3 linked regions of the Homo sapiens genome follow. The protein of the gene in region 1 purifies or fractionates together with the protein of each later gene. This does not show direct contact. Each region holds a gene or a part of one and is shown in the gene's direction. Other genes may lie near its edges.

The links.
Region 2: the proteins of ALKBH2 (region 1) and ODAD3 purify together in Homo sapiens (affinity purification with mass spectrometry; 2 studies listed by BioGRID and IntAct, with this or other methods). This does not show direct contact.
Region 3: the proteins of ALKBH2 (region 1) and SYNJ1 purify together in Homo sapiens (affinity purification with mass spectrometry; 2 studies listed by BioGRID and IntAct, with this or other methods). This does not show direct contact.

The regions. Positions count from the first base shown.
Region 1 is NC_000012.12:109,087,574-109,090,485, reverse strand, and holds the end of ALKBH2 (DNA oxidative demethylase ALKBH2), read left to right. Parts: intron 1-278; coding exon 279-477; intron 478-1,973; coding exon 1,974-2,280; 3' UTR 2,281-2,297; downstream 2,298-2,912. UniProt on the Homo sapiens protein: Dioxygenase that repairs alkylated nucleic acid bases by direct reversal oxidative dealkylation. Can process both double-stranded (ds) and single-stranded (ss) DNA substrates, with a strong preference for dsDNA.
Region 2 is NC_000019.10:11,425,056-11,432,183, reverse strand, and holds part of ODAD3 (outer dynein arm-docking complex subunit 3), read left to right. Parts: intron 1-1,163; coding exon 1,164-1,285; intron 1,286-1,407; coding exon 1,408-1,485; intron 1,486-5,143; coding exon 5,144-5,311; intron 5,312-5,399; coding exon 5,400-5,501; intron 5,502-5,612; coding exon 5,613-5,738; intron 5,739-5,917; coding exon 5,918-6,040; intron 6,041-7,128. UniProt on the Homo sapiens protein: Component of the outer dynein arm-docking complex (ODA-DC) that mediates outer dynein arms (ODA) binding onto the doublet microtubule. Involved in mediating assembly of both ODAs and their axonemal docking complex onto ciliary microtubules.
Region 3 is NC_000021.9:32,661,933-32,669,060, reverse strand, and holds part of SYNJ1 (synaptojanin-1), read left to right. Parts: intron 1-2,487; coding exon 2,488-2,628; intron 2,629-2,925; coding exon 2,926-3,118; intron 3,119-3,989; coding exon 3,990-4,148; intron 4,149-4,344; exon of another isoform or gene 4,345-7,128. UniProt on the Homo sapiens protein: Phosphatase that acts on various phosphoinositides, including phosphatidylinositol 4-phosphate, phosphatidylinositol (4,5)-bisphosphate and phosphatidylinositol (3,4,5)-trisphosphate. Has a role in clathrin-mediated endocytosis.

The DNA.
Region 1 (2,912 bases):
ACTGTACTCCAGCCTGGGTGACACAGGGAGACCCTGTCTCAAAGAAAACAAAACAAAAAGAAAATTTGGGGCAAGCCAAAATGATGATTGAAGAGGGGTTTAAATTGCATGGAATGACGGGGAAATGTTATTCCTTACTTCCCTTTCAATCTTGAATACCCAGGGAGCATGTATGTGGGGCACTGGATTTCTGGTGATGGCAGTGCGGGTTGGGGGGGGCATCTGGATTTCTAGATGGGGGTCAGGTAGAAAGGAACTGCCATGTTTCCTCTGCACAGGAGCACTGGCCAGAGTCCAGGTATTCGGGAAGTGGCACAGTGTGCCCAGGAAGCAGGCAACGTATGGCGACGCTGGGCTGACCTACACATTTTCAGGCCTCACGCTGTCTCCAAAGCCCTGGATCCCAGTTCTAGAGCGCATCCGGGATCACGTCTCTGGGGTGACTGGACAGACCTTCAACTTTGTGCTCATCAACAGGTGACACCCTGTTTAGTGGACTCAATGTTACAAGTCTTCTGTCTCCTCCAAAAGGAAGTGTTTAGGGTTCCACCCTATTTGGTTCATTGGTACAAATCATTTCTTAGTACACTGGGGCTCTAAGAGTGGAATAGCGCCAGCACTCGGTCTTCCTGGATCCTGGAGCTCATCCCGGAGTAGGAAGTGAGAGGTGATTAACTCCTGAACAAACAGCTGAATGAGATAATTTCTTCTTCTCTTTTTCTTTCTTTTTTTTTTTTGAGACAGGGTTTTTCTATGTTGCCCAGGCTTGGTCTCAAACTGCTAGGCTCAAGCGATCCTCCCACCTCAGCCTCCCAAAGTGCTGGGATTACAGGCGTGAACGACTATGCCTGACCCTAGACGATTTCAGACAGTGATAACCATCTTGCAAAAAATTAAACAGGCCGATTTGACTGAGAATGGCTGAGAGGTTTGCGATTAGGGCAAGGTTTCTCAACGGCAGCACTGCAGACATTTTGGGCCCAGTCATTCGTTGTTGTTGGGGCTGACCTGTGCCTTGCAGGATGTTGAGCAGATCCCTGGCCTCCATCCACTAGATTGCAAGTAGTGTCCCCCACCCCCCAATACCTGTCCCCTGGGGCAGAATCACCCTGGTGGAGAACCCTGGGTGGGTTTAAGGGAAGGTCACTTCAGATGGGGTGGTTAGAGGAGGGCTGAGGCAGTGCGTTTGAGCTGATAACTAAATGGAGAGTGCCAGCCACAGACATCTGGAGGGAGAGCAGAGGGACTCTGGAGTGTCTGTGAAGCAAAAATGCTGCAGGATGGCCGGAAAGCAGTGAATGAGGGAAAGAAGGGGATGGCATGAGCTCAGCAGTGGGCAGGGGCCGGGCTATGCAGAGTATGGCCTTTGAGTGCAGGGCAAAATCATGTGATAAAGGTTTACATAGACTGGCCAGGGGAACTACAGTAAGACGTGATTTTGGCTTTGGGTGTCTTCAGTTTTAAAGCACATGAACTGGCCGGACGTGGTGACTCATGCCTGTAATCCCAACACTTTGGGAGGCCAAGGAGAGTGAATTGCTTGAGCCCGAGTTTGAGACCAGCCTGGGTAACATGGTGAAACTGTTTCTGCAAAAGAAAAGAAATTAGCTAGGTGGGGTGGTGCATACCTATAGTCCCAGCTACTTGGGAGGCTGAAGTGGGAGAATCACTTGAGCCCAGGAGGCCGAGGCTGCAGTGAGCTATGATTGTGCCACTGCACTTCAGCCTGGGTGACAGAGCGAGACCCTCTCAAAAATAATAATAAATAAGTCACATGAACAAATACGTCAACAGACCTCTTCAGCGTTGGCTTATCTTAGAGCCCACTGTGGACCTCAAGCCCTCGCAGAAACAACGGCAGGTACAGCCATGCAGAGTGCTGTTTCACACTGTGAGGAAAACGAGGGCTGGCGGTGCTGGTGAGTTTCAGGAGAGGGTTGTTTTTATGCACTGTGTTTGTTTTCTCATTGCAGGTATAAAGATGGCTGTGACCACATCGGGGAGCACCGAGATGATGAAAGAGAACTGGCCCCTGGGAGCCCCATTGCCTCTGTCTCCTTCGGTGCCTGCAGAGACTTTGTCTTCCGGCATAAGGATTCCCGTGGGAAAAGCCCCTCCAGGAGGGTGGCGGTGGTCAGGCTGCCGCTGGCCCACGGGAGCTTACTAATGATGAACCACCCGACCAACACGCACTGGTACCACAGTCTTCCCGTGAGAAAGAAGGTTCTGGCTCCACGGGTGAATCTGACTTTTCGTAAAATTTTGCTTACTAAAAAATAAAAACATTTTTAACAGTTTTTCTCTTTTCTCTTTCCCTCTCGACTCTAAGAGGGAGCTGGCATTTCCCTTACCAACAGGGAACACAGAAAGGTTTAAAGCGTAGGGCTTGTTATGTAACAATGCAGAATTCAGAAAGATGATGTTTGTAACAGATCAGTGTATTACAAAAGAACACCAGGTGATTTTTTTCTAACAAAATGATTATTTTATTGCTATAATACACAGCAGATACAAAAGTACCTTTAGCAAATACATAAATCAGCAGTTATTATGGCAAAACTACTAGTTTAACTTAGGTTTTTCCCAAAAGAAGCTACTTACTTTGAAAATAAAACTAGAAATCAGATTATTGGGCTGCTACTTAATGCATAATAATTTACAAAATGAAGAAGTCAGGTTAAAAGGCTTTGCACAGCTATTGTTCACATTTACAGCCTTGGCTCAAACCCTGGTCTCTGACCAAAGAAAGATCTGCTTATAACCATATATTCCAAGGCTCAGCCCCTTTTCTCTATCTTTCTTTGATGGTAGATTTCAGAGTAAGCAGTGGCAGAACAGCAATTACTTAAAGCTACAGCTTTGCAGTACACTTTAAGGTCACATGATTGGGCATTTGTTCCACCAGACTTGGG
Region 2 (7,128 bases), on another chromosome or scaffold:
TCCACAGGGCTGACTGTGGGACTTGAGTATGGAAGGATTTTGGGGTTTTTTGTTTTGTTTTGTTTTGTTTTTTGAGACAGAGTCTTGCTCTGTTGCCCAGGCTGGAGTGCAGTGGCAGGATCTCAGCTCAATGCAACCTCCACCTCCAGAGGTCAAGTAATTATTGTGCCTCAGCCTCCTGTAGCTGGGATTACAGGCACCCACCATCATGCCCGGCTAATTTTTTTTTTTTTTTTTTTTTGAGGCAGAGTCTCGCTCTGTCACCCAGGCTGGAGTGCAGTGGTGCGATCTCGGCTCACTGCAAGCTCTGCCTCCCAGGTTCACACCATTCTCCTGCCTCAGTCCCCTGAGTAGCTGGGACTACAGGTGCCTGCCACCATGCACGGCTAATTTTTTTTTTTTTTTGTATTTTTAGTAGAGGCGGGATTTCACTATGTTAGCCAGGATGGTCTCGATCTCCTGACCTCGTGATCCGCTCACTTTGGCCTCCCAAAGTGCTGGGATTATGGACGTGAGCCACCGTGCCCGGCCATGCCCAGCTAATTTTTGTATTTTTGTAGAGATGGGGTTTCACCATGTTGGCCAGGCTGATCTTGAACTCTTGACCTCAGGTGATCCGCCCGCCTCTACCTCCCAAAGTGCAAGGATTACAGGAACGAGCCATCATGCTCAGCCTCACACCTGGCTAATTTTTGTATTTTTAGTAGAGATGCGGTTTTACCATGTTGGCCAGGCTGGTCAACGACTGCATTCTTATAATATTAAGTTGATGAGCCTGGCACAGTGGCTCACACCTATAATCCTAGGACTTTAGGGGGCCTAGAACTTTGGGAACACCTGAGGTCAGGAGTTCGAGACCAGCCTGACCAACATGGAGAAACCCCATGTCTACTAAAAATACAAAATTAGCCAGGTGTGGTGGTACATGCCTGTAATCCCAGCTACTTGGGAGGCTGAAGCAGGAGAATCTCTTGAACCCGGGAGGCGGAGGCTGTGGTGAGCCGAGATTGCACCATTGCACTGCAGCCTGGGCAACAAGAGTGAAACTCCATCTCAAAAAAAAAAAAAAAGTTGATGATTGCAAAAAAGGTCTTTCCTCTGGGATGTTGCACCCATGCACCCACCCAGTAACTGTGTGTCTGTCCACCTCACCTGCCTGCCAGAGGGTGACCGGAAGGCTTTTTTTGAGAGCTCTCAGTGGAACATCAAGAAGAACCAGGAGACCATCAGTCAGCTCCGCAAGGAGACTAAGGCACTGGAACTAAAGCTGCTGGACCTGCTCAAGGTAAGGGGCAAAGGGGTGGGTGTAGGGTTCCCGTGGCGGTGGATGGTGGGGGACAAGTAGGTAGCACCTGGCCTTAGCTGGAGGTGGCATGCTGAAAGGTGACTGGACTTCCCTCCTTGCAGGGAGATGAGAAAGTGGTCCAGGCAGTGATTCGCGAATGGAAGTGGGAGAAGCCATACCTGAAGAACAGGACAGGACAGGTTTGCCCACCCTCGCCCCACCTCCTCCTTCATTTCCAGCCTGGGTCCCCTCACCACTGGACTCCAGGCTCACCCTCTCCAATCCTTCCTGCACACTAGCTGCCATTCATGTGCTCATTCAATTAAATCTTTATTACTCACTTTCCTTGTATCTGGCATCCTGGCATGGTAGTAAATGCAGTGAAAAAGCAGACCAAGTCTCCACTTCTAAAAACAGCTCATATCCTAATAGGGAAAACAAGTTAAAAAAAAAAACATCACAGCCAGGCGCGGTGGCCCACGTCTGTAATCACAGCACTTTGGGAGGCCAAGGCGGGCAGATGACCTGAAGTCGGGAGTTCAAGACCAACCTGACCAACATGGAGAAACCCTGTCTCTACTAAAAATACAAAACTTAGCTGGGCATGATGGCACGTGCCTGTAATCCCAGCTACTCGGGAGGCTGAGGCAGGAGAATCGCTTGAACCCGGGAGGCAGAGGTTGCAGTGAGCCGAGATTGTGCCATTACACTCCAGCCTGGGCAACAAGAGCGAAACTCCGTCTCAAAAAATAAATAAAATAAAAATAATTAAAAAAAATAAAACATTTTAAAAGTCATTGAACCCAAGAGGCAGAGGTTGTAGTAAGCTGAGGTTGTGCCACTGTGCTCCAGCCTGGGAGACAGAGTGAGACTCAGTCTCAAAACAAACAAACGAAAACAATGACCAGTGGCACATGCCTGTAATCCCAGCTATTCAGGAGGCTGAGGCTGGAGGATTGCATGAGCCTAGAAGTTTGAGACTATAATGAGCCACAATTGCACCACTGCACTCCAGCCTGAGTGACAGTACAACCTGTTTCTTTAAAAAAAAAAAAAAAAAAGGCTGGGCGCGGTGGCTCACGCCCGTAATCCCAGCACTTTGGGAAACCGAGGCGGGTGGATCACGAGGTCAGGAGATCGAGCCCATCCTGGCTAACACGGTGAAACCCCGTCTCTACTAAAAATACAAAAGGCCGGGCGCGGTGGCTCATGCCTGTAATCCCAGCACTTTGGGAGGCCGAGGTGGGTGGATCACAAGGTCAGGAGTTCTAGACCAGCCTGGCCAAGATGGTGAAACCCTGTTTTTACTAAAAATACAAAAATTAGCCAGGTGTGGTGGCAGGCACCTGTAATCCCAGCTACTCAGGAGGCTGAGGCACAGAATTGCTTGAACCCAAGAGGCAGAAGTTGCAGTGAGCTGAGATCGCACCACTGCACTCCAGTCTGGGCGACAGAGTGAGACTCTGTCTCAAAAATAAATACATAAATAAAAAATAAAATAAAAATAAAAATACAAAAAATTAGCCAGGCATGGTGGTGGGCGCCTGTAGTCCCAGCTACTCAGGAGTCTGAGGCAGGAGAACAGTTTGAACCCGGGAGGCGGAGCTTGCAGTGAGCTGAGACTGGTGCCACTGCACTCCAACCTGGGTGACAGAGCGAGACTCTGTCTCAAAAAAACAAAAACAAACAAACAAACAAAAACAAAAGATAAAAAATTAAAGGCCGGGCGCGGTGGCTCACGCCTGTAATCCCAGCACTTTGGGAGGCTGAGGCGGGCGGATCACCTGAGGTCGGGCGTTTGAGACCAGCCTGGCCAACATGGCGAAACCCCGTCTCTACTAAAAATACAAAAAATTAGCCGGGCATGGTGGTGCATGCTTGTAATCCCAGCTACTCAGGAGGCTGACGCAGGAGAATCCCTTGAACCCGGGAGGTGGAGGTTGCTGTGAGCCGAGATCATGCCATTGCACTCCAGCCTGGGCAACTCTGTCTCAAAATAAATAAATAAATAAATAAATAAATAAATAAATAAATAAAAAATAAAACACAGTCTAGGCATGGTGGCTCATGCCTTGTAATACCAGCACTTTGGGAGGCCAAGGCTGGAGGATCACTTGAGCCCAAGAGTTTGAGACCAGCCTGCCAACATAGTGAAACTTTGACTCTACAACAAATACAGAAGATTTGCCAAATGTGGTGGCACAGGATTGTAGTCCCAGCTACTTGCCAGGCTGAGGTGGGAGGATCACCTGAACTGGGGAGGTCGAGGCTGCAGTGAGTCATGTTCGTGCCACTGCACTCCCGTCCGGGTGACAAAGCAAGGCCTTGTCTGAAAAAATAATTATAAAAATTAAAAGGCTGGGCGTGATGGCTCACGTCTGTAATCCTAGTACTTTGGGAGGCCAAGGCAGGTGGATCACTTGAGCTCAGAAGTTCATGACCAGCCTGGGCAACATGATGAAACCCTGTCTCTACCAAAAATACAAAAACGTACCCAGGCGTCGTGGCATGCATCTGTGGTCCCAGCAACTGAGGACGCTGAGGAGGAAGGATCACTTGAGCTCAAGGGGCGGAGGTTGCAGTGAGCCAAGATCGAGCCACTGCACTCCAGCCTGAGTGACAGGGTGAGACCCCATCTCAAAAAACAAAACAAAACAAAACTGGGCTGGGTGCAGTGGCTCTTGCCTGTAATCTCAGCACTTTGGGAGGCCGAGGAAGGAGGATGGCTTGGGCCCAGGAATTCGCGACCAGCCTGAGCCACATAGCGAGACCCTGCCTCTATAATTTTTTTTTTTTTTTGAGACAGAGTCTCGCACTGTCGCCCAGTATGGAGTGCAGTGGCACGATCTTGGCTCACTGCAAGCTCCGCCTCCCGGGTTCTCGCCATTCTTCTGCCTCAGCCTCCTGAGTAGCTGGGACTACAGGCGCCTGCCACCATGCCCGGCTAATTTTTTGTATTTTTAGTAGAGACGGGGTTTTACCGTGTTAGCCAGGATGGTCTCGATGTCCTGACCTCGTGATCCACCCGCCTTGGCCTCCCAAAGTGCTGGGATTACAGGCGGGAGCCACCGCGCCCAGCCTAAAACATTTTTTAAAAGAAAAAAATGGCCAGAAGATAGCTGGGTGAGGTGGCTCACGTCTGTAATCCCAGCACTTTCGGAGGCCGAGGCAGGTGGATCACCTGAAGTCAGGCGTTTGAGACCAGCCTGGTCAACGTGGTGAAACCCTGTCTCTACCCAAAATACAAAAATTAGCCGGGTGTAGTGGCACATGCCTGTAATCCCAGCTACTTGGGAGGCTGAGGCAGGAGAATTGCTTGAACCTAGGAGATGGAAGTTGCAGTGAGCCGAGATCGTGCCACTACACTTCAGCCTGGGCGACAGAGCGAGACTCCGTTTCAAAAAAAAAAAAAAAAGAAAAGAAAACAAAAACAAAAATTAGCCAGGCGTGGTGGTGGGCACCTGTAATCCCAGCTACTCGGGAGGTTGAGGCAGGAGAATGGCGTGAACCCAGGAGGAGGAGGTTGCAGTGAGCCGAGATTGCACCACAGCACTCCAGCCTGGGTGTCAGAGCAAGACTCCGTCTAAAAAAAAAAAAACGAAAGAAAGAAAAATTTAAAAATATTTTTTTAGAACCCTGAGCCGGTGTAAGATCGCCAAGGTGGTCGATATAGACAGAGAGAAGACTCCGGTGCTCTCTCTACAAAAACAACACAGAAGGGGTGGCCAGGGAGGTGGGTAGAAAACGGGAGAGGGGAGTCCTGGAAGCCACAGTGTGGGAGAAGGAAGGGAGGAAGGGCTAGGTGTGTGTCGGGGTAGGGTGTTGAGGCTCCTGCTTTCGCTCCCCTCCTTGCGGCAGGCCCTGGAGCACCTAGACCACCGGCTGAGGGAGAAGGTGAAGCAGCAGAACGCCCTGCGGCACCAGGTGGTGTTGCGGCAGAGGCGGCTGGAGGAGCTCCAGCTGCAGCACAGCCTGCGCCTTCTGGAGATGGCGGAGGCGCAAAACAGACACACGGAGGTGGCCAAGGTAGGGGCGGGTGAGGCCTGCAGGGCAGAGGGTCGTGTGGGAGGGATTGAGTGCGGAGGGCCCTCAGCCCAGCCCTGCTGCTCTCCAGACCATGCGGAACCTGGAGAACCGCCTGGAGAAGGCCCAGATGAAGGCGCAGGAGGCCGAGCACATTACCAGCGTGTACCTGCAGCTCAAGGCCTATCTAATGGTAGGGACTAGGAGGGCTCGGGTGAGATGACAAACAGGGAGGGCGGGCTTGGCTAGGGACAGCAGTCACAGACCTGCACCATCTCCGCTACCCCTCCCCACCACGCCCCAGGACGAGAGCCTCAACTTGGAGAACCGGCTGGACTCCATGGAGGCTGAGGTGGTGAGGACCAAACATGAGCTGGAGGCACTGCACGTGGTGAACCAAGAGGCCCTCAATGCCCGGGACATTGCCAAGGTGCCACCCCTCTTGCCCTCGGCCATCCTGCCCAGCTGCCGCGGTCTCCCAGCTTGAGAATCTGACCTCAGCTGTCCCTGAGCTTCCCCTACGCCCCCGCCCCCATCTATCTCCCAGCACCCTGCGGCGGGCAGTGGTAGGTGCCAGCTGGTCTCCCTGCTACCCTGCCCGCCCTCCAGAACCAGCTGCAGTACCTAGAGGAGACCTTGGTTCGAGAGCGCAAGAAGCGGGAACGCTACATAAGTGAGTGCAAGAAGCGCGCCGAGGAGAAGAAACTGGAGAACGAGCGCATGGAGCGCAAGGTGGGCGCACCCAGGGGTGCGCGCCTGTGACTCCAGCCCAGCCCAGCACAAACCAGCCATGCCCTGGCTCTCCCTCATCCTAGGCCTTCTCCCATTTTCTGTTTCTCCTAACCCCGCCCCCTCTCTGACTCCACCCCCACTTGGTGCGAAGACCCCTCCCACATCCCTGACCCCGCCTCTCCTCCCCTCCCCTCCTAAGCGACTGCACCATTTTGGCTCTGACATGGCCTCCAGCCTTCCCCTTACTCAGTGACCCCCCTACCCATCCTTTCCCACCTGACTAGACTGCCTGTCCTGAATCTGACCGTGCCTCTGAGCCAACCGTTGCCTAAGGCCCTGCCCCCTCACTCTTGGCCCCGCCCCTGCACCTGCCCTGAGGCTGCCTCCCATCCAGCCCTCACCAAAGCCCTGTCCTGCCTTTTTGTTTTTTGGGTTGTTGTTGTTGTAGTTGTTGTTTGATAGGTTTTTTTTGCATATATATATATATATATACGTATATACATATATATACATATATGCATATATGCATATATACACACACATATATACACATATACATACATATATACATACATACACACATATATACATATATACATACATACACACATATATACATATATACATATATACACACATATATACATATATACATATATACACACATATATACATATATACACACACATATATGTATATATACATATACACATATGTGTATATACACATATATGTATATATACATATACACATATGTACATACACACATATATACACATATGTACATATACACATATATACATATATACACATATGTACATATACACATATGTACACATACACATATATACACATATGTACATATACACACATATACACATATGTACATATACATATATACACATATGTACATATACACACATATATACACATATGTACACATACACATATGTATATATACACATATGTACATATACACATATGTATATATACATATGTACATATACACATATACACATATGTACATATACACATATATACATATATACACATATGTACATATACACATATACATATATACACATATA
Region 3 (7,128 bases), on another chromosome or scaffold:
CTTTAATAAAATCAATAATGTCTGTTGCTTCATCAAGGACATTCTTAGGCGAAGTGGCATTTTTTTTTTCCTGCAAGTATATGGCAGTGGGGATTGTAATGATGACTAGTATAGTTTGGTGCCTAAATTCGAGTGAAAGCACCAGCACTTTTACCCATTGTTGCTTTTGCACCATCAGTGCAAATGTTAGTCAACACAGTGAAAGATGTCTTAATAGTATGATGAAAATAGTTGTGACCCCATGGGCTTTGGGAACCCTCAAAGATGTCTCCAGATCACACTTTGGGAACGCTGTTCTGAATCCATATTATAAATACAAATTATATGAGTGAGGCTTAAAACTTCAGTGTTTTATTTTAACAAAGTATGCTTGCTTTTAAATTTCAGCAGTTTCCCATCTTTTATGACATTTTTAAAGATTTTTAGGAGAAAATTATAGGCTGAAATAGTCATCAATCTTGCAAGTGACAAATATTTTATTAGGCAAAATGAAAAACAATTCACATCAGGAAAATTGGAAAGAAATCAACTTCACCCATTTTGTTGTTTGATTATGTTTCCTGAAAAATATATTCAGGTCCTAAACTAGACTATAACTCTGAGGGTTCCTAGTACTAAGTGCATGGATCAATTGTTTGTCTAAATAGAGTTTAATCAAATTCTTCTTTAGGCTAGGTTTAATCAAATTCTTTAGGCTGGGTGTGGTGGCTCATGCCTGTAATCCCAATGCTTTGGGAGGCCAAGGCAGGTGGATCACTTGAGGTCAGGAGTTTGAGACCAGCCTGGCCAATATAGTGAAACCCTATCTCTACTAAAAATACAAAAAAATCAGCTGGACGTGGTGCCCCGTGCCTGTAATCCCAGCTACTCAGGAGGCTGAGGCAGGGAGAATCGCTTGAACCTGGGAGACGGAGGTTGCAGTGAGTGGAGATCGCACCACCGCACTCCGGCCTGAGTGACAGAGCAAGACTCTGTCTCAAATATGTATATGTATATATATATACACACATGCACACACACACACACACACACACACACACACACACACACATATATATTCTTCTTTAATAAAGTAGTGAATATTTATTCATTTATTTAAGCAGTACCTACTGAGTACCACTCTTAAGTACCTCCAATGAATCAAACAGACAAAAATCCCTATCTTCATGGACTTCGTATTCTAGTGGGAAGAAACGGACAGTGAACAATAACAACAATAAGTAAATTATACAGCATGTTAGAAAAGTGCAATGGAAAAGAGAGGAAAAGGAGATCAACTATAGGGACACAGGGAAGTGTTGGAAGTCTCAAATGAATGATCAAGATAAGGTTCATTGAGAAGATGAGGAATGAGTTTCAGCTACTTGCGGGGCTGAGGTGGGAGGATCGCTTGAGCTCAGGCAGAGGTTGCAGTGAACCGACATCCTGCCACAGCACTCCAGCCCTGGGTGACAGAGTGAGACCCCATCTCAAGAAAAAAAGAGAGATTAGGAGACATGACAAGCAAATGCAATATGTAGACCTTGTTTGGACCCTTTTTAAAGAAACAAACCAACTGTTAGAAGATTTTTTTTTAATAAATGGGGAACTTTAAGTATAAACTATTAGATGATATTAAGGAATTATTAATGTTTAAATGTGATAAGGTGAAGAGGATGGAAAAAATAGATTGGCAAAATGTTGGTAATTTTGAAATGGGTATATGGTGGTTTGTTTAATGATTATGTCTTCTAATTTCCCATAGCAAGATTTTTTAAAAAGACATTAGTTATAATTTAGAAAAATTTTGAAAAGTGGGGAAATGTATTTGGAAGCACATATAGTCACATATATGTGCACAGTTAGCTGTCCTTATCCATGGGTCTGACATCTTTGGATTCAACTCATCAAAATATTAAATATTTTTTAAAATTGTGTCTATACTGAACATGTGTAGCCTTTTTTTTTTTGTCTTTTTTACTTGCAGACTTTTTTGTATCGTTATTCCCTAAACATTACAATATAACAACTAATTACATTGTATTAGGTATTATAGGTAATCTAGAGATGATTTAAAGTATACGAGAGATTTACATGGGTTATATGCAAGTATTACTCCATTTTATGTAAGGGACTTGAGTATCCTTGGATTTTGGTATCATGGGAGGTCCTGAAACCAATCTCCCACAGATACTTCTATACTTCTCTGTGATCTTAATGAATACTTAAGGAAAAAGTAAAATGTATAAGTTTGAATTTACTCACCCAGTGAGTAGCCATTTAATGTCTTTATATTTTCTTTGTAAAGAAGTAATAGATTAGATTTTGAAATGTGGTTTTCTTTTGGCTAAATTGTAGATTTTCCTTTTTAAAGGAAACAAAAACAGCCTAAGCTTCCTTCAGAGTCTTAGGATATTTGGGTAGATAAAGGTATAATTGACAATTGTCATAAAATAGGCTATTGTCAATACCTTTTTAAAAAATTCTCTTTTTAATATTTTCTTGTAGCACAACAAATCAGAAGCTCTGGGCTGTAGAACTTCAGAAGACAATCTCCAGAGACAACAAGTATGTGCTGCTGGCTTCTGAACAGTTGGTGGGCGTCTGTTTGTTTGTTTTTATCAGACCACAGCATGCTCCTTTTATCAGGTCAGTAAACAGAACACTCCTCTAAGGCTACTTCCTACCATTAAATAACAAGAAAAAAGCCTAGAATGTTTATTGTTTCAGTTCTTCAAACAAAAACTATCCATAGTTCTTGTTTTAAAATGGGGTTTTGGGGGTTTTGATTAAAGACTCACCAATAGCTTCACTGTACTATTTCAAAGGCTTGCCCTCAAAGTACCATACCATGTGTACTTAAATGATTATGTATATTCCTCATTTCCTATGCACATGGAACTCTTGAAATTTCAAATCTGCGATTTAGAATTCTTTGTTTCAAAGGGATGTTGCAGTTGATACTGTGAAGACTGGAATGGGAGGTGCAACTGGAAATAAGGGAGCAGTTGCAATCCGAATGCTCTTCCATACAACCAGCCTTTGCTTCGTCTGTAGCCACTTTGCTGCAGGGCAGTCACAAGTCAAAGAAAGAAATGAAGATTTTATAGAAATAGCACGAAAATTGAGTTTTCCTATGGTAAGCTCTTGCTGCTTGTTCTTGAAGATAAAGCTTTGAAATATATTTTAATTTGCCCCAAATTCTACATCAATGTTTTTGGAAATTTAAGATAGTTCCTAGAAACATTAAGAATATTCACCTAAATAGATATTTCATGAGTATTAACCCAAAATATCTGAGACAGGGCTCAGTCAATTTAGAAAGTTTATTTTGCCAAGGTTAAGGATGTGGCCATGATATAGCCTCCAGAATTCAGAATGACATGTGCCCAAGGTGGTCGGGGGTACAGTTTGCTTTTATACATTTTAGGGAGACCTGAGACATCAGTCAGTATGTGTATGATGTACACTGGTTTGGTCTGGTAAGGCAGGACAACTCGAAGTGGGGGCTTCCAGGTTAGAAGTAGATAAGACGCAAAAGGTTGCATTCTTTTAAGTCCTAGATCAGCCTTCCACTGAATACACAATTTAGTGTGGCTCAGTGAATCTGCATTTTTGCATAAACAATAGGGCAGAGGAAGCAGTCAGATGTGCATTTGTCTCAGGTGAGTCTCAGAGGGATGACTTTGAGTTCAGTCTATACTTTGTCCACAAGGAATTTCCTGTGGGCAAATTGTGAGGGAGTTATGTAGCTTCTTATCTTTGGAGCTATCTTATTTAGGAGTAAAATGGGAGGCAGGTTTACCTGTCATAGTTCCTGGCTTGATTTTTCTCTGGGCTTAGTGATTTTGGGGTCCTGAGATTTATTTTCGTTTCACATGTGTTATTACTGTTGGGTCAAAGAAACAGGACATGGGAGGAGACAAGCATATCTCAGGCAAAGAAATAGTTGTAAAACATTTTTGAACATTGATTGTTTTGAATTTAAAATTCTATCTCATTGCTTTCAGGGAAGGATGCTATTTTCCCATGACTATGTATTTTGGTGTGGTGATTTCAACTATCGAATCGATCTCCCTAACGAAGAAGTTAAAGAGCTCATAAGACAGCAAAATTGGGATTCTCTTATAGCAGGAGATCAACTTATCAATCAGAAAAATGCTGGACAGGTATATCTATACTTGAGAAAATACTTGCATTAAGATTTTGGGTCGTGAAACATGCCTTTTTAAATCAAGATGTTTTAAAATTTTCTTGGGGTCTTTTTGTACTTAAATATGCATCTGTAGGTAAACAGATAATAGAATTATCTTTCCTTAAAGTGTAGCAGGATGAGCTGCAGACAAGAACCCTTCAGACACCAAGTTGTAGAAGGAAAGGGCTTTATTCAGCTGGGAGCAGCAGCGGACTCACGTCTCCAAAAACCGAGCTCCCCGAGTGAGCAATTCCTGTCCCTTTTAAGGGCTTACAGCTCTAAGGGAGTCCATGTGAGAGGGTCGTGATCGATTGAGCAAGCAGGGGGTATGGGACTGGGGGCTGCATGCACTGGTAATCAGAATGGAACAGGACAGGGATTTTCACGATGCTTTTCCATACAATGTCTGAAATCTATAGATAGCACAAGCGGTTAGGTCAAGGGTTGATTTTTAACTACCAGGCCCAGGGCACAGTGCTGGGCTATCTGCCTGTGATTCCATTTCTGCCTTTTAGTTTTCACTTCTTTCTTTGGAGGCAGAAATTGGGCATAAGACAATATGAGGGGTGGTCTCCTCCCTTATTCCCCCCTTTGAGAACTTCACTCATTAATGGGAGTTCTCACTTTCATCCTCATTACCCATGTCTTCTTGCAAGACAGATTGATAGTGATTCATATGGTACACTTGCGCTGAAGCATTTTGGTGAGCTAAGGTAGTGATGAAGCTTTTTATCATTTGAAGAAGTACAAGTAGCAAACAAGGGAGCAGTAAGCAGGTTCCTATTACTATTATAACTCCTATTATAAGAGTTTTAAATCCTCCTAGCACTGGGAACCATTTTTCAAACATGGCCCCCGGATCAAATCCATGCCACACTTGCACAGGCACATGTGTCAGTTTTGTCATATCTCTAATTATGTCTTCAACTACTTGCCCTTCATCATCTGTGTATAGACAGCAATTAGTAAGGTTAAATTTCCCACAGACCCCCACCTTCAGCTGCTAGCAAGTAGTCGAGAGCCAATCTATTTTGATAGATAGCATTTCTCATCTGAGACTCTTGCCAGGGCAGTATAGTCAAGGCTCTGCCAGTTTTATTAGTGATTATTTCTAAGACAGCTTGTAACCGTATGATTCGGTTGAGCATGTAAATGGGGGTCCAGTATCCCCACGAGCCATCTTGTGCCCAAGTAGCAGGTCTGTAATATTGTATGATTCTCTCAGGGGGCCATTCATCATCTTTCCAATTTCCTATAGCTATGCTTCTCTTTTCTCGGGCAGCATAGACAGGGAAACCCAGGAGTTTGCCTGTCTTTATGGGCAGTAGGAAGAAAGATGGTTTAATAGTGCCAATAACACAACTACCTGTCCACTGGTTGGATAATTTGGCACAAGCTCTATGCCCACATATACAGTATAATCCAGTGGGGGCTGTCCAGTCCTGGTGGGACTCCGGATGGGTCCACACGGTTTGCAACTTTGGGAATTTACTAAATGGATTCCTTTCTGTGTGATTTGAACTCCACCAAGTGACTGTTTTTGTGGTACCATTATACAGTTTCTGTCCCAGACAACTAAGTCATCCTACGGGGTGAGTGAATTCTTTTCCTTCTCCAGCTATGCAATATTGTCCAATAATTGAGGTTTTTAGGACCCAGAAATTATCAGGGTGATTCTTTTGAGCTGGGAATTCATCAGGAACTGGGTCTGTAGGTACTAATTCTCGGGCTTCTCGTGGCCATTGATCTCCCATTACAGTTCCTCCACATACATAATGTGAAGCAACATTGAGAGACTAGGCTACATGCTTGGCTAATTGCAAAAACAAATTTCTTGTTTTTCCTGGAATTTCTGGTACTGGCACATTTAGTTCATCATAGAAAGTTTGAAGCACTGGCTCAGGAGAGTGTTTGTAAACTTCTCCTCGAACTAAGATATTTACTCGAGGATCCAGTCCAGCCCCATTGATTCCTAAGGTCACACGCTCCCCTTTTTTCCAGCGAGGATCAAGGGGATTGGTTATTACTAGCTCTAAGGGGTTACATTGTCCCTTAGTACAGGAAGGGCCACTTTTTCCTTTCTGAAGCTGCACTGGATCCTTTTCATTTTTTATCCAAGTGGCCCAAATGACACCAGTATCCACATTGATTTCCACACAGTCCTAATTCATGACAAATATACTTATTTTTGGTCATATAGCCTTTTTCCCAATCAAAAGCCACACCCCTTCCTAACTTATTGCTCTTAATGACAGCACAGGCATCAAATTTCAAGATTATGCGTTTGGGCACCCCTTTTTCTTCTGTTTTGGCTAATACTTGTATCATTTACAAGTCCCCATCAGTCTTCAGTCCTTAATCTTACTTCAAAAACTGTGGACCTGGGAGGCCACAGAGGGATCATAACACACATCTGGGCAGTCGTTTCCTAGGCTACATACCTCGTACTGAGTGTCATTATATAAACACGTTCCTTTTAAAGTTCCTAGGCATTCATAGTAACTATAGAACAGAAAGATTGTTTTAACTTGTTACCCTACCTCAGTAACCTGATGTATACACTGAGAGCAGTCTTCTATGCAGGGAAAATCAGTGGAAGTTTTTACTATACAAGTCCAAATTATAAGGAAAATGAGTCCCACGATGATTCTCCTCATGCCTCGGCCGTGCGTAGACCAGTCAGCTTCCGGGTGTGACTGGAGCAGGGCTTGTCATCCTCCTCAGAGTCACTTTCAGGAGTTGTCTGGGCTCGGTTTTGCCTCCCAAGTTTCAGCAGCTGCAGGTTTCACACGGCTGTGGTGGATCCAGGCTGGGATTCCTTCTCCTTTACAGCCGTGGGGGTGGTCAGGATGATGGTGTGAGGTCTTTTCCACTGTGGCCGCAAAGGGACTACGTTCCAGTCCTTGATCCACATGCGATCACTTGGAGAGAAAGGGTGAACTGGGGAGAATAAG